Linked DNA regions of Homo sapiens. The protein of the gene in region 7 purifies or fractionates together with the protein of the main gene of each other region. This does not show direct contact. Each region holds a gene or a part of one and is shown on either strand. Other genes may lie near its edges. The genes, in order: MCM10, ABCC10, SNX14, LTAP1, CEP131, ENTPD7 and TEX264.

The links.
Region 1: the proteins of TEX264 (region 7) and MCM10 purify together in Homo sapiens (affinity purification with mass spectrometry; 3 studies listed by BioGRID and IntAct, with this or other methods). This does not show direct contact.
Region 2: the proteins of TEX264 (region 7) and ABCC10 purify together in Homo sapiens (affinity purification with mass spectrometry; 3 studies listed by BioGRID and IntAct, with this or other methods). This does not show direct contact.
Region 3: the proteins of TEX264 (region 7) and SNX14 purify together in Homo sapiens (affinity purification with mass spectrometry; 3 studies listed by BioGRID and IntAct, with this or other methods). This does not show direct contact.
Region 4: the proteins of TEX264 (region 7) and LTAP1 purify together in Homo sapiens (affinity purification with mass spectrometry; 3 studies listed by BioGRID and IntAct, with this or other methods). This does not show direct contact.
Region 5: the proteins of TEX264 (region 7) and CEP131 purify together in Homo sapiens (affinity purification with mass spectrometry; 3 studies listed by BioGRID and IntAct, with this or other methods). This does not show direct contact.
Region 6: the proteins of TEX264 (region 7) and ENTPD7 purify together in Homo sapiens (affinity purification with mass spectrometry; 3 studies listed by BioGRID and IntAct, with this or other methods). This does not show direct contact.

What each region holds. Positions count from the first base shown.
Region 1 is NC_000010.11:13,192,558-13,196,057, forward strand, and holds part of MCM10 (protein MCM10 homolog), read left to right. Parts: coding exon 1-11; intron 12-2,483; coding exon 2,484-2,712; intron 2,713-3,500. UniProt on the Homo sapiens protein: Acts as a replication initiation factor that brings together the MCM2-7 helicase and the DNA polymerase alpha/primase complex in order to initiate DNA replication. Additionally, plays a role in preventing DNA damage during replication.
Region 2 is NC_000006.12:43,441,041-43,444,540, reverse strand, and holds part of ABCC10 (ATP-binding cassette sub-family C member 10), read right to left. Parts: intron 2,680-3,500; coding exon 2,581-2,679; intron 1,572-2,580; coding exon 1,382-1,571; intron 640-1,381; exon of another isoform or gene 609-639; coding exon 531-608; intron 383-530; coding exon 188-382; intron 1-187. UniProt on the Homo sapiens protein: ATP-dependent transporter of the ATP-binding cassette (ABC) family that actively extrudes physiological compounds, and xenobiotics from cells.
Region 3 is NC_000006.12:85,545,359-85,548,858, reverse strand, and holds part of SNX14 (sorting nexin-14), read left to right. Parts: intron 1-482; coding exon 483-558; intron 559-1,308; coding exon 1,309-1,353; intron 1,354-1,461; coding exon 1,462-1,542; intron 1,543-1,632; coding exon 1,633-1,747; exon of another isoform or gene 1,748-1,775; intron 1,776-3,500. UniProt on the Homo sapiens protein: Plays a role in maintaining normal neuronal excitability and synaptic transmission. May be involved in several stages of intracellular trafficking. Required for autophagosome clearance, possibly by mediating the fusion of lysosomes with autophagosomes.
Region 4 is NC_000001.11:154,210,591-154,214,090, forward strand, and holds part of LTAP1 (protein C1orf43), read right to left. Parts: intron 3,357-3,500; coding exon 3,303-3,356; intron 2,035-3,302; coding exon 1,868-2,034; intron 1,789-1,867; coding exon 1,730-1,788; coding exon of another isoform or gene 1,726-1,729; exon of another isoform or gene 871-1,725; intron 1-870. UniProt on the Homo sapiens protein: General regulator of phagocytosis. Required to uptake Gram negative bacterium by macrophages.
Region 5 is NC_000017.11:81,198,966-81,202,465, reverse strand, and holds part of CEP131 (centrosomal protein of 131 kDa), read left to right. Parts: intron 1-67; coding exon 68-226; intron 227-2,019; coding exon 2,020-2,137; intron 2,138-2,630; coding exon 2,631-2,747; intron 2,748-2,916; coding exon 2,917-3,085; intron 3,086-3,494; coding exon 3,495-3,500. UniProt on the Homo sapiens protein: Component of centriolar satellites contributing to the building of a complex and dynamic network required to regulate cilia/flagellum formation.
Region 6 is NC_000010.11:99,666,009-99,669,508, reverse strand, and holds part of ENTPD7 (ectonucleoside triphosphate diphosphohydrolase 7), read right to left. Parts: intron 1-3,500. UniProt on the Homo sapiens protein: Catalyzes the hydrolysis of nucleoside triphosphates and diphosphates in a calcium- or magnesium-dependent manner. Preferentially hydrolyzes nucleoside 5'-triphosphates, with substrate preference for UTP > GTP > CTP.
Region 7 is NC_000003.12:51,677,752-51,681,251, reverse strand, and holds part of TEX264 (testis-expressed protein 264), read right to left. Parts: intron 1-3,500. UniProt on the Homo sapiens protein: Major reticulophagy (also called ER-phagy) receptor that acts independently of other candidate reticulophagy receptors to remodel subdomains of the endoplasmic reticulum into autophagosomes upon nutrient stress, which then fuse with lysosomes for endoplasmic reticulum turnover.

The DNA.
Region 1 (3,500 bases), on a different chromosome or scaffold from region 7:
ATACAGAAGCGGTAAGAGGAGCAGATTTAATATTCCCCGCTTGGGTCATCCATCTCAGGCGTCCTCAGAACGTCTTCATCGATTTCCAGAATGTGACTTCAGGTTTCGGTTGGCTGCGTTTTAACTCTGAAAGTTTAAAATAGTTTTCCCATAACCTGAATAGCATTTAAGGCTGTATTATTTCTTACACTGGTGACTCCCAACACCAAATGGTACAGGTTAGAGTCGTTATCACCATGGAAAAGGGAAAGGAGTGAAGTGTATGTAAAGAGGGTTTTTGTGAAGGGGGAGAGCGTAGGTTCACATGCTGGCTGTCATTTTCTCTCTCTCTCTCTTTTTTTTTTCTGAGACGGGTTTTCACTCTGTCACCCCAGCTGAAGTGCAATGCTGCAGTGTCGGCTCACTGCAACCTCCATGTCCCAGGCTCAAATGATCCTCCTGCCTTGGCCTCCCAAGTAGTTGGGACTACAGGCATGTGCCACTATGCTTGGCTAATTTTTGTATTTTTTTATAGAGACTGGGTTTTGCCATATTGCCCAAGCTGGTCTCAAATTCCTGGACGCAAGCCTGGATTTGCCTGGCTGCCATTTCTGGGTTTTGCCGCAATTCAGTTTTTTATGACAGGCAGAGCCAGTGAGTAGAATACAGTTCTTTGGATAAAGGACAAAACTGAAGCACTAAAAATGGAGAGTCATTTTAGAGGCAAAAGCAAGTGGAAATGTGTTACTTGGCTTCAGCCAATAATTAAAAAAAAAAAAAATCAAGTGGAAATGCATAGGGTAGGTGGACAAATGAATGATTCCTGAACTCAGGTCACCTGAATACTAATGAGAGCTGCGGTTCACAGGCACTTCATACGTACTCCATAAACACAGTATCTGAGCCTCCGGAGGCTTCTCAGCCTTGTTTTACTAATAGTGTGCCTGGAGATCAGAGAGCTAGTTTATGGTGGGGCCGAGTTTTGGGCTCACACATGTTGTGCTCTGGTGCTGAACCTTTTGCCATCCCGAATCTGGGCTGCTGAAAGGCAACCACATCCATGAAAGGGAGTCAATGATAAGACAAGAGGAAATTCTTTGGGAAAGTAAGAGAATGGGTTTGGTCTCAGGCAGATTAGTTTGAAGTGCCGGTGGGATATCTATAGAGCTATTCATCTTGAGCCTACAGATGACATAAATTATATACGTGGACACAGAAATATGTATGGAGTTGGGGGCCTCGTGGGAAATAGAGAATGCCCATCAGCTTGAAGGCATTGCGTAATGAAAATTTTCAGAATTTTGTTGGCCAAGGAAACCTTATCTTTGCGTAGGATTTGATAGGCAGTTTGCAAACACAGCCTAGAGCTTGCAAGAGTGGCTGTGCGGTTGGGAAGAGTACTGCTCTGGGATGGCCTGGCTCTAATCCTGAGTCTGGCCCTTGTGAGTAATGTGATCCTAGGCCTCAGTTTCTTCATCGATCAAATGAGAAGTTTGGACTAGATGATTTCTGGGGTTTGTTATTTGTTTTTAAATATCTCTTATGAGGCTGGCTTGGTGGCTTATGTCTGTAATCCTAGCACTTTGGGAGGCCGAGGCAGGCAGATCGCCTGAGCCCAGGAGTTTGAGACCAACCTGAGCAAAATGGCGAAATCCTGTCTCTACAAACAGTACAAAGATTAGCTGGGCATGGTGGTGCACACTGTGGACCCAGCTACTCGGGAGGCTGAGGTGGGAGGATCACCTGAGCCTGGGAGGCAGAGGTGGCAGCGAGCCGCAATCGTGCCAACGCACTCTAGTCTGGGTGACAAAGCAAGACCCTGTCTCCAAAAACAAAAGTAAAATAGCTCTTAAAACTATTTTTTGCCAGGCATGATAGCTCACGCCTATAATCCCAACACTTGGGAGGCTGAGGCACGAGAATCACTTGAACCTGGGAGGCAGAGGTTGCAGTGAGCCAAGATCATGCCACTGCACTCCAGCCTGGGTGACACAGCGAGACTCTGTCTCAAAAAAATCAAAAAAAAGAAAGGGGATGTAAAATAATCGCTGCAAGTTACAGTGTTTTTCATTAATGACTTCCAAATGTCTCACATGTATTGTCTCTTCCCAGTAGCATAAACAAAGATGCAGGGAGGTGCAATGAGTTCCTACAGGCCCTAGAGCTGACGGTAGGGGTGGGAATACAGTTCACACCGCGTCTTCAGCTGTGTTCCTTGTGGATGACATCCACTGGACAGCCAATTGATAAAAACAGTTATCAGTTCTAAAGTGTTAGGACAATTACAGCTTATTCAAAGAAAACTCAATTAAGGAGGAGTTAGTAAAGCTAGTATTGTTCTTATCGTGTGCAAATTTGAATTACCAGCCTAGAAGGGGACATTATTTTGCTAACAACTAGCTCCCAACTGGTGGCCTGCCTGCCGCCTCCCAGTCCACTTTGAGTTCTAGAGTTTTTATTTTCGTAAACCCTGTTTGCGTATTTTGACTGTATGTTCTTTAAAGATTTCTGCAGAGCTCAAGTGAAGTTGAGAGCCCAGCTGTGCCATCTTCATCAAGACAGCCCCCTGCTCAGCCTCCACGGACAGGATCCGAGTTCCCCAGGCTGGAGGGAGCCCCGGCCACAATGACGCCCAAGCTGGGGCGAGGTGTCTTGGAAGGAGATGATGTTCTCTTTTATGATGAGTCACCACCACCAAGACCAAAACTGAGTGCTTTAGCAGAAGCCAAAAAGGTAACTGGCATCTCTTCTCTTTAGCACTTGAGTTTGCATTCTGTAGAGCAGAGCTGGAGGAAAGACAGACACCTAATAGCTCTTTATTGATCGTGATCATTAGAGTCAGTGTAATTTGAAAACATGGTAGTGTCAACATAATACTAAAAGAAAGTTAGATCTGTTATCTCAACACTTTTTCTTGTCAGGCTACAAGAGGTAGCCTAGAGGAAGATAGTGTTTTATAACCAGAGGCATTGACAGTAGGAAAACAATGCTTGGAATTGTTGAGGTGAGACTGTAAAATGGTGGTTTAAGGAATCCTTTTTTTACGTTTATTTATTTATTTATTTATTTATTTATTTATTTATTTATTTTTTGAGAAGGAGTCTCACTCTGTCACCCAGACTGGAGTGCAGTGGCGCAATCTCGGCTCACTGCAACCTCCTCCTCCCAGATTCAAGCGATTGTCCTGCTTCAGCCTCCCGAGTACCTGGGACTACAGGCGCCTACCACCACGCCCGGCTAATTTTTAGTAGAGACATGGTTTCACCATGTTGGCCAGGCTGGTCTCGAACTCCTGACCTCAAATGATCTGTCCACCTCGGCCTCCCAAAGTACTAGGATTATAGGTGTGAGCCACCATGCCTGGCGGTTTTATTTTTTATTTGTTGAGACAGACTATCCCCCTGTCACCCATGCTAGAGTGCAGTGGTGCAATTATGGTTCACTGCAGCCTCAACCTCCCAGGATCGATTCATCCACCTGCCTCAGCCTCCCAAGTAGTAGCTGGGACTGCAGGCACATGC
Region 2 (3,500 bases), on a different chromosome or scaffold from region 7:
ACAGAAGCCAGCTATAGAGCACATGCCTCTGGCCCCTGGGCATCTCTCAGAATTAGGAGTATGGCTTTTGTCCCAGCTGTGACCCATGCTTGGTGAGTCTCTGGGCTTTGTAATGATTAGTGCAAGGTAATGGGCACCTAGACAGCACAGCCGTTACGATGTAAGAGACTCCCAGGCACGCTCTCACCTTGCATGAGAAGCAGAGAGAAGAGGATGGCTAAGGCCAAGCCCTGGCCCACGGCCTTCCAGTAAGCTTGGTACACGTGCAAGGCCACGGCGCCCTCCTTCTTGCTTTCTTCCTGCAGCAGGCGACCAGATGTGCTCTGCTCCTCCTCCAGCCCCTCCTTTGTTTTCTCTGGGTTCTGTACTGACTGGGCTGTGGCTGTGAGAATCAGGGGTCATGGAAGAATTAAGCTTGCAGGGTGCCAGCTGAAAACTCAGTATTTCAGAGGAGCGGGCAGCCGTTGTAGAAAAAGCTCTACAGTGTGGCAGGGAAAAGCAAGCCCTTTTCTCCCACTGGGGAGCCATACCTGAGTCAGACTCTTGTCCATTCTCAGCCCAGGCTTTGGGGACAGCTTGTACCAGTGGCAGAATCTCAGAGGGAGGTCCTGGAGGGTAGAAGGGGAGATTGGGAGAGGACTGTTCTGAGTCTATACTATGCCTTTCTCAGTGCGTGTGCAGATCCCACCTCTCATCCTCTCAGGCCTCCCCGTCTAACCCACCCTAGCAGGATACCCCTAGACCTCGAGCAGGACTCTTAGGCCTCCCTCTCTAACCCACCCTGCTCTGGATACCCCTAGACCTCGAGCAGGACTCAAGTCCATCCTTGTAAACCTTGATTCCGACCAGCAGAGAGGGACGAATGTCCATCCCCAAGAGGACCGCCAGAGCTATGCCTGCCACTCTGTCCAGGGTTACTTCTCATTACTGCAGAGCTTTTTCTCATGCTTCGCTCAATTCCTAATATCTGGCTGGAGCTTCATTTCCTCCTATTTCTCTCCCAGTAAACTTGCAGGTGGTCACATCCCTCTGCATAAAAATCTTTCAGAGTTTAAAAATTTTTGTTTTTACAAAAAGACCATTCTAAACCTGACTCCTTTCTCTTCTCTGAAGATATGAGAATGTTCTCAGAGACCCTGGGCCTTTAAGTTCCCAAGAGCACCCAGTCACAAAGCCCATGAGTCCCAAATACACTGGCATTTTACCAACGTACTCCTTTTCCCTCCTGTTCTCCCAGTTCCTCACACCAGTTCTGTGAAGGCGGGAGGCAGCAATGACTGGCTCAGGGCACACATGCAGCAGGGGGCAGAGTCTGTACTTCACAATCCCCTGCCAGACCTGGGCAGACACCTCCCTCACACGGGGCTCCTGCCCCCATTACCAGCCCGGATGAGGCGCCCGGCCTCCATCAGCAGCACCGCGTCAGCCCTCTCCAGGTACTCAGTGCGGTGGGTGCAGAGCAGCCGTGTGGTGTAGCTCAGCATGCCCAGGATGCACCTGTGCAGCAGGTGGTTGGCCACATCTGCATCCACAGCGGCCAGAGGGTCATCGAGGAGATAGAGCTCCTTTTCCTATGGAGACGTGAGGGTACCGTGGGCACCAGGACCCAAAGGCTCTCCGGAGAAGATCTCAAAGTGATCAGAGAAGACAGTTGAGAGAAACTCTGGGGGCTACCCCTACACTAGCAGAGAAGGAGGTGAGACCTGAGGGTGGACATCCCTTCAGGCAAGAAAGAACAGCACCCCAGGGCCAGCACTCAGCTTTCCTAGGTCCCAGGCCCTCAGCCCATATAACACTTTTTTTTTTTTTTGAGACATGGTCTTGCTCTGTTGCCCAGGCTGGAGTGCAGTGGCATGAACACCACTCACTGCAGCCTCAATTTCCCAGGCTCAAGTGATCCTTCCCACCTCAGCCTCCTGAGTAGCTGGGACTACAGGTGCATGCTATCAAGCCCAGCTAAATTTTTTTGGAGACAGGGTTTCATTCTCATCACCCAGGCTGGAGTGCAATGGTGTGATCTTGGCTCACTGCAACCTCTGCCTCTCGGGTTCAAGCGATTCTCCTGCCTCAGCCTCCCGAGTAGCTGGAATTACAGGCATGTGCCACTATGCCCAGCTAATTTTTGTATGTTTTTCAGTAGCGATGGGGTTTCACCATGTTGGCCCAGCTGGTCTCGAACTCCTGACCTCAAGTGATCCACCCTCCTCGGCCTCTCAAAGTGCTAGGATTACACCAACTAACTTTTTAAAATTATTTTTTGTAGAGACAGGGTTTTGCCACATTGCCCAGGCTGATCTTAAACTCCTGGGCCCAAGCAATCCTCCTGCCTTGGCCTCCCAAAGTGCTGGGATTACAGACCTAAGCCACCATGCCCAGCCTACAAATACTTTTTAAAGGCCTTGAACTCTGCCTTAAATCTGCAAAAGGGGATGAGATGGCCAATACCTCAGGAACATGCAAGGGAGGAGGGAAGGAACCAGATGCTAAGGAAAATATTCCTATCCTCCTAACTCAGCCAAGTTCCCAAGGCTCTGGACTCCCCCCACCTCCCTGCCACTGCAACCTCCATCTTTAACTGACCTGGTAGACAGCACGAGCAAGGGCAATCCGGGCACGCTGTCCTCCGCTAAGGGTGACACCCTTCTCCCCCACCTCTGTCTGGTCTCCAGCAGGCAGGATCTGATGGAACAGGTGCCCCAGTGGGTCAGGGAGCTCCCATTACCTTCTGGCCCACTTCCTATCCCTTTGCAGGAGATAGTGGGAGTCAAGAGAAGTAGGGAGCTTGAGGAGAGTAGACTTAAATTTGGGGTGAGCTAGTCAGAGGAGACAAGACATAATTCCAATAACATCAAGCACTTATTGAACACTATGTGCCTAGCACTTTACAGGCATTCTCTCATTCAAGCCCCAATGTAATCTTATGAAGATGGTATCATTTCCTTTTCTCAGGTGCAACCAAAGCTCAGACAGATTAACTAGCTGGCCCACAGCTAGTAAGGGGCAGGACACAAGTTCAGATTCAGATTCTTAACTACTTTGTTACATTTACTACCCTTTTTTTTTTTTGAGACGGAGTCTCGCTCTGTCGCCAGGCTGGAGTGCAGTGGCACAATCTCAGCTCACTGAAACCTCCACCTCCTGGGTTCAAGCGATTTTCCTGCCTCAGCCTCTCGAGTAGCTGGGACTACAGGCGTGTGCCACCATGCCCAGCTAATTTTTGCATTTTTAGTAGAGACGGGGTTTCACCATGTTAGCCAGGATGGTCTCGATCTCCTGACCTTGTGATCCACCCACCTTGGCCTCCCAAAGTGCTGGGATTATAGGCGTGAGCCACCGTGCCTGGCCTATTACCCTGTCTTTTTAACAGGCAAGGTAGTAAGGTATCTTGGGCAGATTTGATGTAAAAGCTTTTATAGGTTTTTACTTTTTTGTGTGTGTGAGACAGAGTCTTGCTCTGTCGCCCAGGCTGGAGTGCAGTGGCATGATCTCAGCTCACTGCA
Region 3 (3,500 bases), on a different chromosome or scaffold from region 7:
ATTAGCTGGGATTACAGGCATGCACCATCATGCCCAGCTAATTTTTGTATTTTTAGTAGAGACGGGGTTTCATCATGTTGGCCAGGCTGGTCTTGAACTCCTGACCTTGTGATCCCCCTGCCTCGGCCACCCAAAGTTCTGAGATTACAGGCGTGAGCCACCCCACCCGGCCGATAGAGAGTTTTTCCTAATGTCCCCCAAGTTCCTCCTGTTAAGGGAATACTTTTTCTTCTCTTAAGTAATATTCTATTTTAGCCAAGTAAGAACTCTAACTCTTTGCTATTCAACGTGTGTTCTGCAAACCAGTAGCATGAACATTGGTTGAGAGTTTGTTAGAAATGCAGACTTTTAGGGCCTAACCAAGACCTACTGAATTATAGTCTCCATTTTAACAAGATCCTTACGTAATTCACATGCACTTGAAAGTTAAGAACTAATATAAATCACTAAATATAAACAATTATTATTATTTCTTTTTCCAGATCTCTGACCTTACTTATAAGAGAGATTCTGTCTGGCTCTGTGTTCCTTCCTTCTTTGGATTTCCTAGCTGATCCAGTAAGACTTAAGATTTTTTTTTAAATTGTTACAAATTACACTTAATATAACATTTAGTATCTTAAACATTTTTATGTATATAGTCAGTGATACTGAAAACATTCATATTGTTGTGCAACCATCCCCATTCCCCATCTCCAGAACTCTTCATCTTATGAAATTGAAACTCTGCATCTGTTAACAATAACTCCTCATTCCTTCCTCCCTCCAGCCCCCCCTGGCAACCACCATTCTGCTTTCTGTCTCCATGAATTTGACTACTCTGGGTACCACATATAAGTGGAATCATAAGTATTAGTCTTTTTGTGACTGGCTTATTTCACTTAGCATAGTGTCTTCAAGGTTCATCCATGTTGTAGCATGTGTCAGAATTTCCTTCCTTTTCAAGGCTGAGTAATATTTCATTGTATGTGTATAACATGTTTTGCTTATCTGTTCATCCATTGATGGACACTTTGGATGCTTCTACCTTTGATCCAGTGAGATTTTGAAGAAACAAGAATGATTTAGAAATATTTTAAATGCCAAAATCAGAATAGCTTTTATTTGCCCATTTTCACAAAGGTTAAGAACCTGTTTTGTAGATGTAAAAAAACTCCTGCTGTAATACATATGTGCAGATTTTTTGCTACTGCTCCATTTATTTTTTCATTTTTCTAGAAACTTACATAATATGATACAAGTTATGAGAATTCTGGGGAGAATACAGTAGTGGAATTATTTTGACTTATGTTTATTATTTTCCACTAGGATACTGTGAATCATTTGCTTATCATCTTCATAGATGACAGTCCAGTGAGTATTGAATATATTAGAAAACACTTCAGATTGCATTGAATTTTGATTTTGTATGTCAAATCAAGTGGGAATTTTACTGAGTTAATAATTCTCTTTCTTTCAAAGCCTGAAAAAGCAACTGAACCGGCTTCTCCTTTGGTTCCATTCTTGCAGAAATTTGCAGAACCTAGAAATAAAAAGCCATCTGTAAGAATTTTCAGCAATAACACCTTTTTGATATAAACAATTTTAGAACTCATTTATATAGCTTAAACTTAATCTTTCTCTTATATCAAGGTGCTGAAGTTAGAATTGAAGCAAATCAGAGAGCAACAAGATCTTTTATTTCGTTTTATGAACTTTCTGAAACAAGAAGGCGCAGTGCACGTGTTGCAGTTTTGTTTGACTGTGGGTGAGGCTTACCTGTGTATTTTACGAAAGTAATTTTTAAACCTTTTAATGTATTTGAATATTTTAAATCAGATCTGATGTTGTGGTACCCATCTATCATTGTACTAAATTTCATATACTCGATTTCCTTTTTTTTTTTTTTTTTTTGTTTGAGGCGGAATTTCACTCTCGTTGCCCAGGCTGGAGTGCAATGGTGTGATCTTGGCTCACTGCAACCTCCGCCTCCTGGGTTCAAGCGATTCTCCTGCCTCAGTCTCCCAAGTAGCTGGGATTACAGGCATGTGCCAGCACCCCAGCTAATTTTGTATTTTTAGTAGAGATGGGGTTTCTCCATGTTGGTCAGGCTGGTCTTGAATTCCCGACCTCAGGTGATCCACCCACCTCGGCCTCCCAAAGTGCTGGGGTTACAGGCGTGAGCCACCGCGCCCGGCCATATACTTGATTTTCTAAGAGCATATGTGGGTTTCTCTCAAGTGCCCACTTCTTTCCAGATTGGGAAATAATCTGTCACTAACTTCATTCAAATCCTAGTAGCAGAAAAAAAAAATACTAAAAGTACAGTATAATGAAAATATATTAAAAACCCAAACTGTAGCCCATGTCAATATCACTTTTTCACAGTTTTTGTAAAGGATTGTTTTGACTAAATTATCAAATATAAGAATACCTCATTTTAATTATAAGCTCTGTAGCATTATAGATTATTGGATTTATAAGAAACTTTATAGACTGAAAATATTGTTTTTAATGCATTTAATTTCTTTTTAAAATATAACTTTAAAAATGAGGTATAATTTATATAGTGAAACACATGGAATTTAAATGTATAGTTTGATCAGTTTTGCATGTGTGTACATCCACGTAACCTGCATCTTTATCAAGATCTAGAACATTTATTTCCATCAGCCCAGAAAATTCCCTTAGGATCCTTCCCAAGAGATCCACTCTTTCCCCTACTCCTGCCAAAGCAATCACTGGTCTCATTTCTCTCAGCACAGATTAGTTTTGCCTGTATAATTTTTTTTATATAAATTGAATCACATAATATGTACTCCTTTGTGCCTAGCTTCCTTCACTCAGGATAATGCTTTTTAAAGTTCATGTATGTTTTTGTCTAAATAAGTAGTTTGGGCAAGGCGCAGTGGCTCATGCTTACAATCCCAGCACTTCGGGAGGCCGAGGCAGGTGGATCACTTGAAGTCAGGAGTTCGAGACCAACCTGGGCAACATAGTGAAACCCTGTCTCGACAAAAATACAAAAATTAGCTGGGCGTGTTGGCTCATGCCTGTAATCGCAGCTACTCAGGAGGCTGAGGCAGGAGAATTGTTTGAACTTGAGAGGTGGAGGTTGCAGTGAGCCGAGATCATGCCACTGCACTCCAGCCTGGGTGACAGAGTGAGACTCTGTCTCAAAAATAAATAAATAAATATGTAGTTTGTTCTTTGCTGAGTGGTATTCCATTGTATGAATGCATATATCTTTTAAACTTCATTATTAGGTGCAGACACATTTAAGATTGTTATATCTTCTTAATGAATTTATTCTTTTATCATTATAAAATGCTCCTCTTTTATCTTTGGTAATTTTTAGTCTTGAAGTCTGCTTTGTCTGATGTTAATATAGCCACATCATCTTTCTTTATATTTGAGTGTTCATTTGTATATCTTTTTCTATCTGATTGAAATGTTTAATGTATTTCTAGTAAGCAGCACATAGTTTCTCTCACTTTAAAAAAACCTAATTTAGTAATCTT
Region 4 (3,500 bases), on a different chromosome or scaffold from region 7:
CCTCACCTTCCTGAGTGGCTGGCATTACAGGTGCGCACATCATCATGCCCGGCTAATTTTTGTATTTTTGTAGAGATGGGGTTTCACCATGTTGGTTAAGCTGGTCTTGAACTCCTGACCTTAGATGATCCACCTGCCTCGGCCTCCCAGTGTTGGGATTACAGGTGTGAGCCACTGCGCCCGGCCTAAGTTTTTACTCTAGATTGGCTTTCCTTTCTCGCCAAGAACTTTGATTTTAACATTTGCATGAAAATACGAGACTATGTTTAGTGTGTATTAAAAACATTCCCAAACAAAAGCCATGAATCCTCTCCTGTGACACAAATGCTCAACAGCTGACTCTATAGCGATGGCCTTTGTTTCAGACATGGTTACTAATACTTTAAGTGGTAGTAAAAATAGATTTTTTTAATTTTTAATTTTTATTTTTTTTTTGAGACAGTCATGCTCTTGTCACCCCAGCTGAAGTGCAATGGCATGATATCGGCTCATTGCAACCTCCACCTCCCGGGTTCAAGTGATTTCTGCCTCAGCCTCCCGAGTAGCTGGTATTACAGGAGCCCGCCAGCATGCCCAGCTAATTTTTGTATTTTCAGTAAAGACGAGGTTTCACCATGTTGGCCAGGCTGGTCTTGAACTCCTGACCTTGTGATCCACCCTCCTCGGCCTCCCAAAGTGCTGGGATTATAGGCGTGAGCCACCGCGCCCGGCCAAAAATAGATGTTATTTAATTCTTTTTTTTTTTTTTTTTTTTTTTTTTTTTTTGAGATGGAGTCTTGCTCTGTCACCAGGCTGGAGTGCAGTGGCGTGATCTCAGCTCACTGCAACCTCTGCCTCCTGGGGTCAAGCGATTCTCCTGCCTCAGCCACCCGAGTAGCTGAGATTACAGGCACGCACCACCATGCCCAGCTAATTTTTGTATTTTTAGTAGAGACAGGGTTTCACCTTGTTGGCTAGGATGGTCTTGATCTCTTGACCTCATGATTCGCCTGCCTCGGCCTCCCAAAGTGCTGGGATTACAGGCGTGAGCCACCGCGCCCGGCCCAATGTTATTTAATTCTTACTTTTATTGGGCCAAGACACAAAAGGGACGCTGAGACTCTGAAGAGAAGGAATCCCTGTGTGTGCTGAAAAACTATTCCCTTTGCTAGGCTACACCAATTTTGACATTTTATTGGGCTAAACAAAAGACAAGAAAAATGCACACAAGAAAAATGCTAGTAAAAACTTCTTTTACTAGCTTGTATAGTTGCATCTGCTTTCTTTTCTTCTTTTTTTTTTTTGAGACAGAGTTTCACTTTTGTTGCCCAGGCTGGAGTATAATGGCACGATCTTGGCTCACCGCAACCTCCGCCTCCCGGGTTCAAGAGATTCTCCTGCCTCAGCCTCCCCAGAAGCTAGGATTACAGGCATGCGCCACCACGCCCGGCTAATTTTGTATTTTTAGTAGAGAACGGGGTTTCTCCATGTTGGTCAGGCTGGTCTCGGATTCCCAACCTCAGATGATCCTCCCGCCTCGGCCTCCCAAAGTGCTGGGATTATAGGCGTGAACCACTGTGCCCGGCCGCATCTGCTTTCTAATGTAAGAGACTGATCTAATAGTCTAGAACCTGACAACTCTTATGGTATCATGGATTTTGTTTATATGCTTTATGAAGGTCACTGCACTGTGGCAACAGTCCAACACTACTGTACCAGCTCCCTCTGACACGTTCCCCTCCAAACTCACGCAGTGGCCAGCTCACTCAGGGCCTCCTGATAGCGTAGGTACTCATTCTGGCCAAAGACCTTAGGAAAGAGAAAGGAAGAGTGAGGATCTCTCAGTCTGAGGGATCTCTTTAGTGCCCCGAAGAAAAAACTGGCTTACCCCTGTCCCATAGCGGGCTGTTTCATAGCCATCCAAAAGGGTATCAATGAGTGCTTTGCGTACACCCTTGAAAGGCGTACTAGTGTTTCGCAGATCCAGCAGGTAGGAGCGGAAATTCTTGCCCATTAAGGAACGGGGATGCCGGCCTTCAGAATGAAATGGGATCTCTGTGGAGAAAACAGCACAATGATATCTCTTCTCATTCTTTAGTCTTTTTTTTTGAGATGGAGTCTCGCTCTGTCACCCGGGCTGGAGTGCAGTGGCAGTGATCTTGGCTCACTGCAACCTCCACCTCCTAGGTTTGAGCAATTCTCTAGTCTCAGCCTCCTGATTAGCTGGGATTACAGATGTGCACCACCATGCCAGGCTTATTTTTGTATTTTTAGTAGAGACAAAAATACAAAAGGGTTTCACCTTGTTGGCTAGGTTGGTCTTGAACTCCTGGCCTCCTGTGATCTGTCTGCCTCGCCCTCCCAAAGCGTTGGGATTACAGGCATGAGCCACTGCGCCTGCCCCATTCTTTAGTCTTTCTAGTTAATTCCCCAAACTTAGAAGTAGGTCTAATGAAGCTGGGCGCAGTGGCTCACGCCTGTAATTACAGCAATTTGGGAGGCCGGGGCAGGCAGATCACCTGAGGTCAGGAGTTTGAGACCAGCCTGGCCAACATGGTGAAAACCTGTCCCTACTAAAAATACAAAAATTAACCAGGCATGGTGGTAGGTACCTGTAATCCCAGCTACTCGGGAGGCTGAGGCAGGAGAACCGCTTGAACCCAGGAGGTGGAGGTTGTGGTGAGCCAAGATCGTGCTACTGCACTCCAGCCTGGGCAACAGAGCAAGACTCCGTCTCAAAAATAAAAAGAAATAGGTCTAATGAAATGAGCAAGTTGAGTTAGAGGGAGATTCTGATTGAGACCAAAGGTATAAAGCTGTGCCTGAGTGGTCATTTGGTGGTAACACCACAGTTGTAAGCTACATCTATGACACATGATAGTGTCATCACACATTTTACCATCCTGCTTACTCATCCATCCTAGGTTTAAGATATAAACTGTTTTCATAGAGATAAAGCATATATGACAAGTGTTGACAGAATGGAAAAAATTCAAGAACAATCTATCTTGGGCTTAGTGAAAAAGCAGGTGCCACCTGTCCTTTGTGGAAAAACAAGCAAATTACTATCATCTACTTCATGAAACTAAAGGTCTCAAGAGAAGAACTTTAAAAAACAAAACACCCAGACTCTTTGGAGAATAACCTGCTTATATCATTTCCTTCAGCAAAATCTCTAATCTAGTACTTTCAAAACTCTAGAATTTCCTACTAGCCAGGGATGTGCAGAAAGGACAAATCCTAACATACAAAGTGGGTTCATTACTCTGTTCCCTAGGTGGGCTTTCAGGATCCTAGAATGGACCCTGTCAGGTAGCCCTTACCAGAGGTACGAATGGCATCCAGAGCTTTCATCCTATACAGATAGTTGTAGCAACCTGTTGAGGAAAAGACTGGTGTTAGGCATAACCCTAAAAATATTCCCCAGGCTGGGCGTGGTGGCTCATGCCTGTAATCCCAACACTTTGGGAGGCTGAGGTGGGTGGATCACCTGAGGTCAGGAGTTTGAGACCAGCCTGACC
Region 5 (3,500 bases), on a different chromosome or scaffold from region 7:
CTGCTGCCTGTGGGCAGAGCTGTTCCCCTGGGCGGTGAGACGAGGGTGTTTTCTTCTTACCTGTCAGCAACATCATCAAGGCAGCCACCTGTGAGGGCAGTGAGAGCAGCGGCTTTGGGAAGCTGCCGAAGAATGTCTCCAGTGCCACCCACTCAGCCCGGAACAATACTGGGGGCAGCACGGGCTTGCCCAGGCGGAAGGAGGTGACGGAGGAGGAGGCTGAGAGGTGACCGATCTTGGGGCGGTGGGGGGGGGCCTGAGCCTAGAACACAGAGGTGGGCAGGCATCAGGGTCTGGGGGGCTCACACCTCCGAGGATAGAAATTTCCATTTAATAATTGTTTTAATTTAATTTTTTTTTTTTTTGAGACAGAGTCTCGCTCTGTCGCCCAGGCTGGAGTGCAGTGGCGCGATCTCTGCTCGCTGCAAGCTCTGCCTCCCGGGTTCACACCATTCTCCTGCCTCAGCCTCCCGAGTAGCTGGGACTACAGGTGCCCGCCACCACGCCTGGCTAATTTTTTGTATTTTTAGTAGAGACGGGGTTTCACCGTGTTAGCCAGGATGTTCTCGATCTCCTGACCTCGTGATCCGCCCGCCTCCGCCTCCCAAAGTGCTGGGATTACAGGCGTGAGCCACCACCCCCGGCCTGTTTTAAAATATTGAGACCGAGCAGACCCCATGTGGTGTGGTTCTATTTACATAAAACACCAAGCAAAGGCAAGTTTATCACAGGAGGTCGAAGGCTGGTGTAGGGGTGGCAGAGAGGGCTCCTCCAGGGGCAGTGGAACATTCCAGAACTGCACTGTGCTGATGGTCACACAACTCTAGATTTGCTAAAAATCATTGACTTGTACACTGAAAATGGGTAGATTTTATAGTATGGAAATTGTACCTCAGTAAAACTGTTAATTAAAACAACATTAAAGGCAAAGAAGATACAGAACTGAAAAAAGCCAACAACACCCAAAGCTCCAGGGGCTGTGGGCGGAGCCTCCTGTGATGATGACTGTTGGGGGCTGTGCCCCTGCCGCTTGCCCCTGGGGAGCTGGAGGGGCTGTGGGCGGAGCCTCCTGTGACCATGACAGTCGTTTCTTGTCAGGACAGTCGCGGGGGTACCTCCCTGCCTGGACTTTCGGAGCCTGCTCCTGGCGGAGCCGTCACCTACCCTACCGCCCAGTTAGGGCTAGGGAGACCAGGCCTGTAGACGCGGTGGGTGGCACGAGGGAAGGGGGACCAGAAGCCCGCAACCCCTTGAAGCCCCCCAGTTCTGCCCGGGGCAGACTGCTCCCGAGCTAGGGCTCACACGTTCTGGGTTCTCTGTTAGTGCCTTTGCTGAGAGAATCCACACATGGTCCCGAGAGCCAAGGTGAAGCATTTTTTTTTTTGCTTAATCAGTTTTACTTAGTATAATTTGTATACAATAGAAGGTGCCCATTGTAAGTGTGCAGTTCCATGAGATTCCACCAGGGTGTATAGTGCTGTCTGTGGACACAGCAGACCAAGATAAGGAAACGGCCCAGCACCACCAGGCTTCCCTCGAGCTCCTTCCCCGCCCAGATGCCAGCAGCCACCAGTCTGTTCCCTCATAGCCCTGCCTGTTCCGACCACCCTCTCTGTGGAGCCACGGCCTGTGGTCTGCACTGGCCTGAGTCCCGGGCCTGTTGCCTGTGGGTAGGGTCCCGCCATCCAGTATTCACGCTGTAGCCAGGTCATGGGCATTTGAACTCTTCCCACTTCCTGGCAATTGTAAATAAGGCCACACAGGCCTGCGTGGGTAGGCGTTTCCTCTCCCCTGGGCACCTTCCCAGGAAGAAGGTTTTGGGTTTTAGTGGAGCTGGTCCAGGCGGCTGGTCCTGCCATGTGAAAATGGTCCAGGTGGGCTGGTCCTGCCTTGTGAAAAGGGCTACTTGAGTGCAGCCGCCGGCTTCTCTCTTCCCCGGCTCGACCTTCCACCAGCAGCCAGCTGGGTCCTGCCGGGGCGCTGGTCCTGTCTTGGCCCTGAGTCCTGCTCTCCGGGCAGGTTTATCCACCAGGTGAACCAGGCCACTGTCACCATCCAGCGCTGGTACCGGCACCAGGTGCAGCGGCGCGGAGCAGGAGCTGCCCGCCTGGAGCACTTGCTTCAGGCCAAGCGGGAGGTCAGTGTGGGCGTCTCAGTCACTCCATGCTCCCCCGGGGGGTCTGGCCCAGAATCCCAGGGGTTTGAGTTTCTGGGACAGGTGGAATCAAAGCCTAGGATTGCTCGTGGGCCCCGTCTCTGGGTGCAGCATCCTTCTTGACCCTGGGTCCCCGCGGACAGTCAGGGTGGTCCTCACTGGCGGTCCTCAGGGCCTGGGTGTCAGGAAACGCCTGCTGGGTCCATCCCAGGCTGGAGAGTCTCAGGAGGACGTTCTGTGGGGGCAGAGCTGTCTCCCCCACGCCAGAACTGTTGGCCACCTGCGACGTAGGGCTCATCCTCTGTAGAGCAGAGAAATGGCAGGTTCAAGGTCCTGGTGGGGTTTCACTTTCCCTGCTGGCCCTGAGATTCCACGAACTCTAGGGGACTCCAGGGCGTTGTGGGGAAACCTCTGGTCTGGGTCTGGATTCCGTCTTCCAGATGTAAACGCCACATGGCACCGGCTTCTTTGGCAGGAGCAGCGGCAGCGGTCAGGCGAGGGGACCCTCTTGGACCTGCACCAGCAGAAAGAGGCAGCCAGGAGGAAGGCCCGGGAGGAGAAGGCACGCCAAGCCAGGCGAGCAGCCATTCAGGTGCTGACCGCGCAGGGACCACTGAGCAGCACCGTGGCCCAGGCCTGACCGTGCGGGGCTGCTGCTGGGGCTCCCTGGGCCCCGGGACACTTAGCCTCAGGGCAGCTTGGCTGTGGAGCCTGGGGTCGTCCTCTCCCAGGGACAGTGCTCAGCGATGCTCCCACTGCAGGAGCTGCAACAGAAACGAGCCCTGAGAGCCCAGAAGGCGAGCACTGCCGAGCGTGGGCCACCTGAGAATCCCAGGGAGACCAGAGTGCCAGGAATGCGGCAGCCTGCTCAGGAGCTGTCCCCCACACCAGGCGGCACTGCCCACCAGGCCCTCAAGGCCAACAATACTGGTGAGAGTGGCTCCACGCCCGCCCTGCTCTGGGGGGTGGACTGCAGCCAGGAAGGAAGTGCAGCCCTTGTGGACCTCCTCTCGGCCTCCTGTGCTGCTGCCCATGTTGGCGGCCCCAGTCCTCGGAGTTAGGGGCCTTGGCCCCCAGCTGACCTGACGAGGGTGCCGAGACCTTGACAATCAAATGGTCCTGGACGTAGGGATCCCTACAGAGTAGAAGGCCCGGAAGGGAGGGGTGGCACTCATCCTCCACAGCTCCACACCCAGAAGGCCGTGGCTCCCCAGCGGCTCCTCTGCTTCTGGGGTCGCCTCCGCCTCCCCCATGCCTGGCTCCTTCCCGGGGGTGCCTCCAGAGTTGCTGCCCGCCCCGGGATGCTCCCTGTGGAATGGTGCTGTGTTCTGCTGTGCAGGTGGTG
Region 6 (3,500 bases), on a different chromosome or scaffold from region 7:
TCCTACTCTCTCTTTCCAGAAGCAATATGGATACATGTTCACAATAAAGAAAAAAAATGTAAGTCTTTAGTTCTGGAACTACTGAGAGAAAACCCCCTGACAGGCTTCTAAAGTCCTGGTTAATATCCCCTGAAAAGTGATATGTTAAATTCCACCAATGCCTATAAAAAGTTCACATTGAAATATCTGTTTTCAATGCAAAAGTAATTAAAATATTTTAAACATTAACTGCTTTCATATATATTAAAATACAAAGATGCAATGTGCAAGAGAGACTATCATTTCTAATTAAAGCAATGCCTTATTTGTCAAGACCATAAAACAATGAATGGGCCTAGGACAGTGGCTCACATCTGTAATCCCAGCACTTTGCGAGGCCAAGGCAGGTGGATTGCTTGAGCCTAGGAGTTCATGACTACGCTTGGCAACATAGGGAGACACTGTCTCTACAAAAAAAAAAAAAAAAGATATATAAAATAAAATAAAGAATGCATGTAGTGTTCCTCTAGGCACATTTTCCTGATCAAAGGTTTGCAAACTTGCTCCCATGAAGACACGTGTAAGTGGGTTCCTGGAAGACAGCACACTTTCTGAGGGACACCACAAAGTACGGATATAATTTCACTGTGTGAATTAGGAACAATTTAAGTAGAAAAAATATGTCTATATATGAATATAATATAAAAAAATCACAACTACAGGCGCTTGTGTTAAAACTTTTTTAAGCTGTTAAATTAAGGTAGCAAGTGTTTCTACCAATTCCTAGTTACTTGCTTAATCATTTCATCAAAATTTTAAATAGAGATTATAACGCCCATTATCTTCAGTGTATATTTTCAGGCAGAGAAGAGAATTGGAAAACAGAAAAATCAAGATTATTTCAAATAATAGATTGACATTTGATTAGTCAATCAATGCACCTGACATTCCTAGATGCTCTACTCTTCTTATGCAAATGACAAGACTAAAAGACAGCTATTTTTATTCTCACTTTATATATAAAGAATATGAAATTCCAGGATATTAAGAAACCTGCCCAAGATTACCCAACTAGCAAATGATGGGCTGATTAACTCTAATATTAACATTCTTTCCCTTACCTCACAATACCTCCTTAAGTAAATGTAACCAAATCTTAAAGCAGTTTTTCTCAACCCAGGTGGTATATTAGATTCACCTTGAGAAGAGTCCCAATTATTTGCATTTTTCTAAAGGTCCCCAAGTGATTTAGATACACAAAGGTTGAAAACCTCTGATTTAAAATTATCATTAATGGCCAGGCATGGTGGCTCACGCCTGTAATCCCAGCACTTTGAGAGGCTGAGGTGGGTGGATCACATGAGGCCAGGAGTTTGAGACCAGCTTGGCAAACATGGTGAAACCCTGTCTCTACTAAAAATACAAAAATTAGCCGGGCATGGTGGTGCGCACCTGTAATCCCAGCTACTCGGGAGGCTAAGGCATGAGAATCGCTTGAACCTGGGAGGTGGAGGTTGAAGTGAGCTGAGATCATGCCACTGCACTCCAGCCTGGGCAACAGAGTGAGACTCTGTCTCAAAAAAAAAAAAAAAAAAAAAAAGATTATCATTTCATTAACATAAATTTTTAGACTATGTAATAAAACAGTTTTAACAACATATGTAGAACTGTTTACCACTATAGAAACTGTCTGTAGAAATTTTGAGTTATTGAGTCTATCTTTATTAAATTTCCTCTCTCCTGCTTCACTGTCAAGATGCCAGATATAACTGATTATTGTCATAATGTGCCCACATCTAACAACACACCCCACCCACCATTCCAATTTGCTGTTATCTACTGTGTTCTGAGACAAGTGAGAACCATGCAAATGAGAACAGTGTGTAAAATAAAAGCTAACAGGCTTTATGTGAGAGCCTATCTTATCAGTAAAGTACAGGTGCTTTTAGCACATGAACTTAGTGATATCAAATTTGGTTGCTCAAGAACTTCTTCTGTTTAATTTCTGATTCTTAGCTTTGTTCCTAATTCTTAACCTTGTACATAGTTCCTGATTCTTCACTCCTGATTCTATACAACCGTACCTAAACTATTATCTCACTGGGAAATAATTTTTCCTTTATGCCTGCCTCTCTAACTAGATTACGAACTCCTTGAGTTCAGGGGCTATGTTTAGTCATCTTTGTACTCCAGTGCTATCATAGAGTCATCGACACAGCAAACCCTCAATAAATGTTTGCCTCTTAAATGACTCATGGAGGCTGCCCTGAGTGAAGTTTAATGATAAATGGTCATTTGTGGCAATATATACAGAACCTTTCATTAAGTAACAATGAGCTCTGAGCCACAGCATTCCAGGGTGTTAGGACTTTGGTGAGGTCGCCACAGTGGCACAGTCTATGTGTTCCTCAGCTCTATTGCTAACTTGTTTCAATTAATTCAACCTACCAAGTATTTATTGGCTCTGACCACTTGGGATACAGTGATAGACAAGAATTATCAGATCACTCTGCCACCCACATACATTTAAATGCTTTTACCTCTCTCCATCCTCTTGCAACCACAACCATCTCTCTATTGAGGTACAGTCATTGACTTACAATGGTACAACTTATGATTTTTCAGCTTTATGATGGTGCAAAAGTGATGCACATTCAGTAGAAAGTATACCGTGAGTATCCACACAACCATTCTGTTTTTCACTTTCAGTACAGTATTCAATAAATTACATGAGATATTCAATACTTTATTATAAAATATGCCTTCTGTTAGGTGGTTTTGCACAACAGTAGGCTAATGTAAATGTTCTGAGCACCTTTAAAGTAGGCTAGGCTAAGCTATGACATTTGTTAGGTTAGGTGTATTAAATGCATTTTCAACTTATGATATTTCAATTTACATAACCCATCATAAGTCAAGGAGCATCTCTAGTTCAATTACTCTTCCTGCTTTCTTTTTCATTCCTCTCCAATTCTTTTTCCACAATCCCACCAAAGTGAGCTTTCTTTAAGAAGCAGTTCTGGCTGGGCACGATGGCTCATGCCTGTAACCCCAGCACTTTGAGAGGCCGAGGCAGGTGGACTACTTGAGGCCAGGGATTCGAGACCAGCCTGGCCAACATGGTGAAACCCCGTCTCTACTAAAAAATACAAAAACTAGCTGGGCATGGTGCCACATGCCTGTAATCCCAGCTACTTGGGAGGCTGAGGCAGGAGAATTGCTTGAACCTGGGAGGCGGAGGTTGTAGTGAGCCGAGATAGCGCCACTGCACTCCGGCCTGGGTGACAGAGTGAGACTCTGTTTCAAAAAAAAAAAAAATTAAAAAGCAGTTCCAACCTTTTCACTCTTCAAAACCTTTCAAAGCCTTCCTTCTGCCCTGAGGGTAATGCCTAAACCCTCTAAAATAGCTTAACAGACTCAGCTTGATCTAGCTCTCCAGCCATACAGCTCACCATTCACTCCCTAATTGTCTTTAGCCATATTAACTAACCTACATGGAAGTCCATAATTAGACCATGTCG
Region 7 (3,500 bases):
CCTCCACCTGGAGAAAAGGCAGAGCTCCTGTCAAAGTGGAAGAAGGGAGCTAAGAAGACAGGGCTCCCAGGATCCAGGAGGTGTGTGGGGCACAGCAGCTCCTTTCCTGGCTAAGCAACTCCCTAATTCCACAAGTAAGAACACTTCCTACCTCCTCCCCTGCCCTGGCCTAAGGAGGAGCCTAGAAGGTCTCTCAGCAAGCCTACCACCCACTAAGTGGCCCCATGCAAAGTTGAAGCTGGGAAGCAGCTGAACAAGGCACCAGCAAGGAGGAAATGGGACAGGCCCTAAAATAACCTAGGGAGTGGCAAGGCTGATCCAGTGGCAGAGGAAAGCTTTCCTGGCCTCCCAGTAAAGCCCAGACCCGCCTCCAGGGAAAAGGCCTACTAAGGCTGTCAAGTGCCCAGAAGGTTGGGATGTCCTGATGGGCAAGAGACCCCATCCACCTTGGCTCAATGAGTATCTGTATTTGGGCCGAACCCTAGGACATAGGCCTGGGCCTCCCAGCCCTACCTGCCTGCTCCTCTTCCTCCCCAGATCAGCTATTTCTCTGGGTACCTCTGCCCAGAACAAGAATTGGACCAGAACTAGTACCTACAAGGAACCACATCTGGGAAACAGGGCAGTGGCCAGACCCACCACCACTCGGGGTAAAGACAAGCCCATCCAGGATGTGTCCTCAAAGCAAGAGTACCAGGAAAACAACAGAGGCATGCCAGGCCCCAGAGCATCTCCTTTGGGCTGAAAAGCCTCCTGAGTCCCATTACTGGGAGGAGAGGGCAGTCTGCTTAGAACCTGAGGCTTCCAGGTACGAGCTAGTCCCAAGGCTGGCCCCACTGCCCCTTCCTGAGTGGTGTCACAGTGCCCTGCCGACCCTATTGTGTGAGGCTATAGCGAAGACAGCCATCTCGGGGCCCCTGCCAAGCCAAGACCTCGCTGAGTCTGGGAACTGGACAAGACTGATAATCTTCCAGGATGCAGGAATGAGAAATGGTGTCAGCGGCCCAGACCAAATGTAGTCATTGGGTTCAGGGTTAATACAAACTGCCAACCCCAGGCCCACAACCTACACAACCTGACAGGGACAGCAGCACCATCTCTCAAACCCAGGCACAGAGGGCTGCCCTTACTCTTCCCATGCCAGCCCACTGACCCAGAGCTACCCAAGTTAAGGGGGAAAGTAGAGGCAGGGCCCTTCATTTGCACTTGTACTCCCAAGGGAATAGACGAGCTGCACTGGCCCATGACTAGGTGGTTGATACGGGACCTCGTTTGCCCTCCTAGGTGCTACAGGTCAACACGCCAACCCCCAACTTCCCTGGGAAGCTTATGCCCAAAGGCACACGGAGACAGGCACCAGTCAGGACACGAGATGATGCAGACAGCTAGGCCAGAGGACAAGCCTCATTCTTCAGGCTCGGGAGGAAAGAAAGGAGTCAACAAGATACCAGCCCTCAAAGGTGAGTTTACTTAGAAACCTTTCAGGAACCTTCCTCTATAACCCTACACCTTCAAACAGAATCCTAAAAACAGCTGATATCTGACCAGGCACTCACCACTTTCCCCAGACTCTGCCTTCCAAGCATAAGCTCATTAAATCCAAACAGCCTTCTGTGGTTGGTACTGTTTTCAACCCTGTTCCCAAGGCCCAGACAACCAAGCCATTCAGCCAAGGTCACACAGCAAGGGAGTGCTGAAGTCAGGATTCAAACTCAAGCAGACCAGCTTCAGAGCTGCGCCACACAACCCAGGGGCATCCAGGAGTCCCGGAAATTGGCCCTAGTGAAAGCGGGCTGCACAATGGCTTTTCCCTGCACTGTGCCGCCTCACATGGCCCAGACAACCTGCAGGAGGCTGGGACTAAACCAGAGAGGCAGGCAGGGTCCCTAAAAGTACAAAGTCCCAGTGGCATGAGGTCCTCAGGCAGGACTGGATGTCAAGTGTGACACCCACCTATTTAAAGAACTGGGTATTGGGCCATATCATTATCAATTAGCCCCCACAAAACAAAAACCCTGAGGTAGGGATTCTTTTATCCTCATGTGACAGATGAGGAGACATACTCAGACAGGCCAAGTGACTCACCTAAAGTCACACATTGGTTAGCAGTGGAGCCTTGATTCAAACCCAGAAGGGCAAATCCGAAGCCCCTTCCTCTCACACCTCGTCTCACCTCACCTCAAGGACAGTTCTAGTGGGCAGAGAGGAGCTCGTGCTTCCAGACCTGTCCCACATAGTTAACCTGCTGCACAGCAAATGCCTGGACTCCACCTGGCAGAAAATAACCATGGAGTAACCAGGATAGGGGGCGGCCTGAGCCCTCAGGAAACATCCCAGCCCACATTCCCATTGCCTTTGTTGAGGAGGTCAGTCCTGGGAAATCCTACTCCCTCACCCCTTCCCAGGCTCCACCCAAACTAAGTGCCTCCAGGGAGGGCAGGGAGCCTTCTCTCCACACACACTGAGGGAGGAGGGAGTGTGACACAGGCCTACATCAGAACTCTCACCAGCCTCTGTGAGGCTGTGGTCATGCCAGCCAAATGACCACAGGCCCCTGCAGACCTAGTGGCCCTGGGCCTTGGTTCTCATTGGACTAAGGGAAAGGGGGCTTCAATGGCAGTCTTGTTTACTAAAGGCAGAAGCAAGTACCACCAGTTCCCCAACCCACTCCATGCCTGGAGCAAACACCACCTCCTAGGTAGTAGATGTAAGCAGCAAATATAGGCCCACTTGGGCCACATAAATTGAACTAGCTGCCACACCCATCTTGCCCCAGCCAGGCTCCCCATATAAGCAAGCAGGCAGGTTGCTTAAGCCCCAAACATAGCAGCAGAGGTGATGGTGGCACAGGGTGGGGCAGGAGGTAGAGAGCCAGCCTGGCAGACAGGATGGGCCCACAGGCACAGTGATAGCAGCCCAGCCACTAGGGCCTGTCCACAGGCCAGAGCTGGCCAGGATCAAGCGAGGCACTCAGGGTCCTCTCAGCTCCTTCCTTCCCCTCCAACACTGAAGGCTCCCAGAGGGACCAGGCCCCAAAAGGGAGCCTGAAGTCACTTTCCAAGCCCCCAGCACCCACCGCAGAAGCAGGGCTAAAGGCAGAGCAGTTTTTCTAGTCAGGACCCTTCCCCAGTCATGCAAGGGCAGTATGGACCAGTGTGTGTAAGGGAGATCTGTGACTGACATCCGCCTACATGTGATCCTTATCTCTGAACTCATACCCCATCCCTTGCATACCTTGAAGAGGAATGGCCCACACTCCATGAATGCTGGGCTCTGAGGTGGGTGAGTACACCCATGAGCCCCTGCCAGGGTCTGTCCACTTCCCAAAAGACTTCTTCCCCACCTTCCCATTCCCAACCATGCCAAGGGTTTCAGGGATGGAGAATGGAATCCTTCCTCCTGCCTCACAAGAACCACTCACCCAGACCTGCAGCCTCTTCCCATACAGGACTCCAGGGCACAAGGCTAACAGCTCCAGCAGCAGCTACTATGAACAGGTC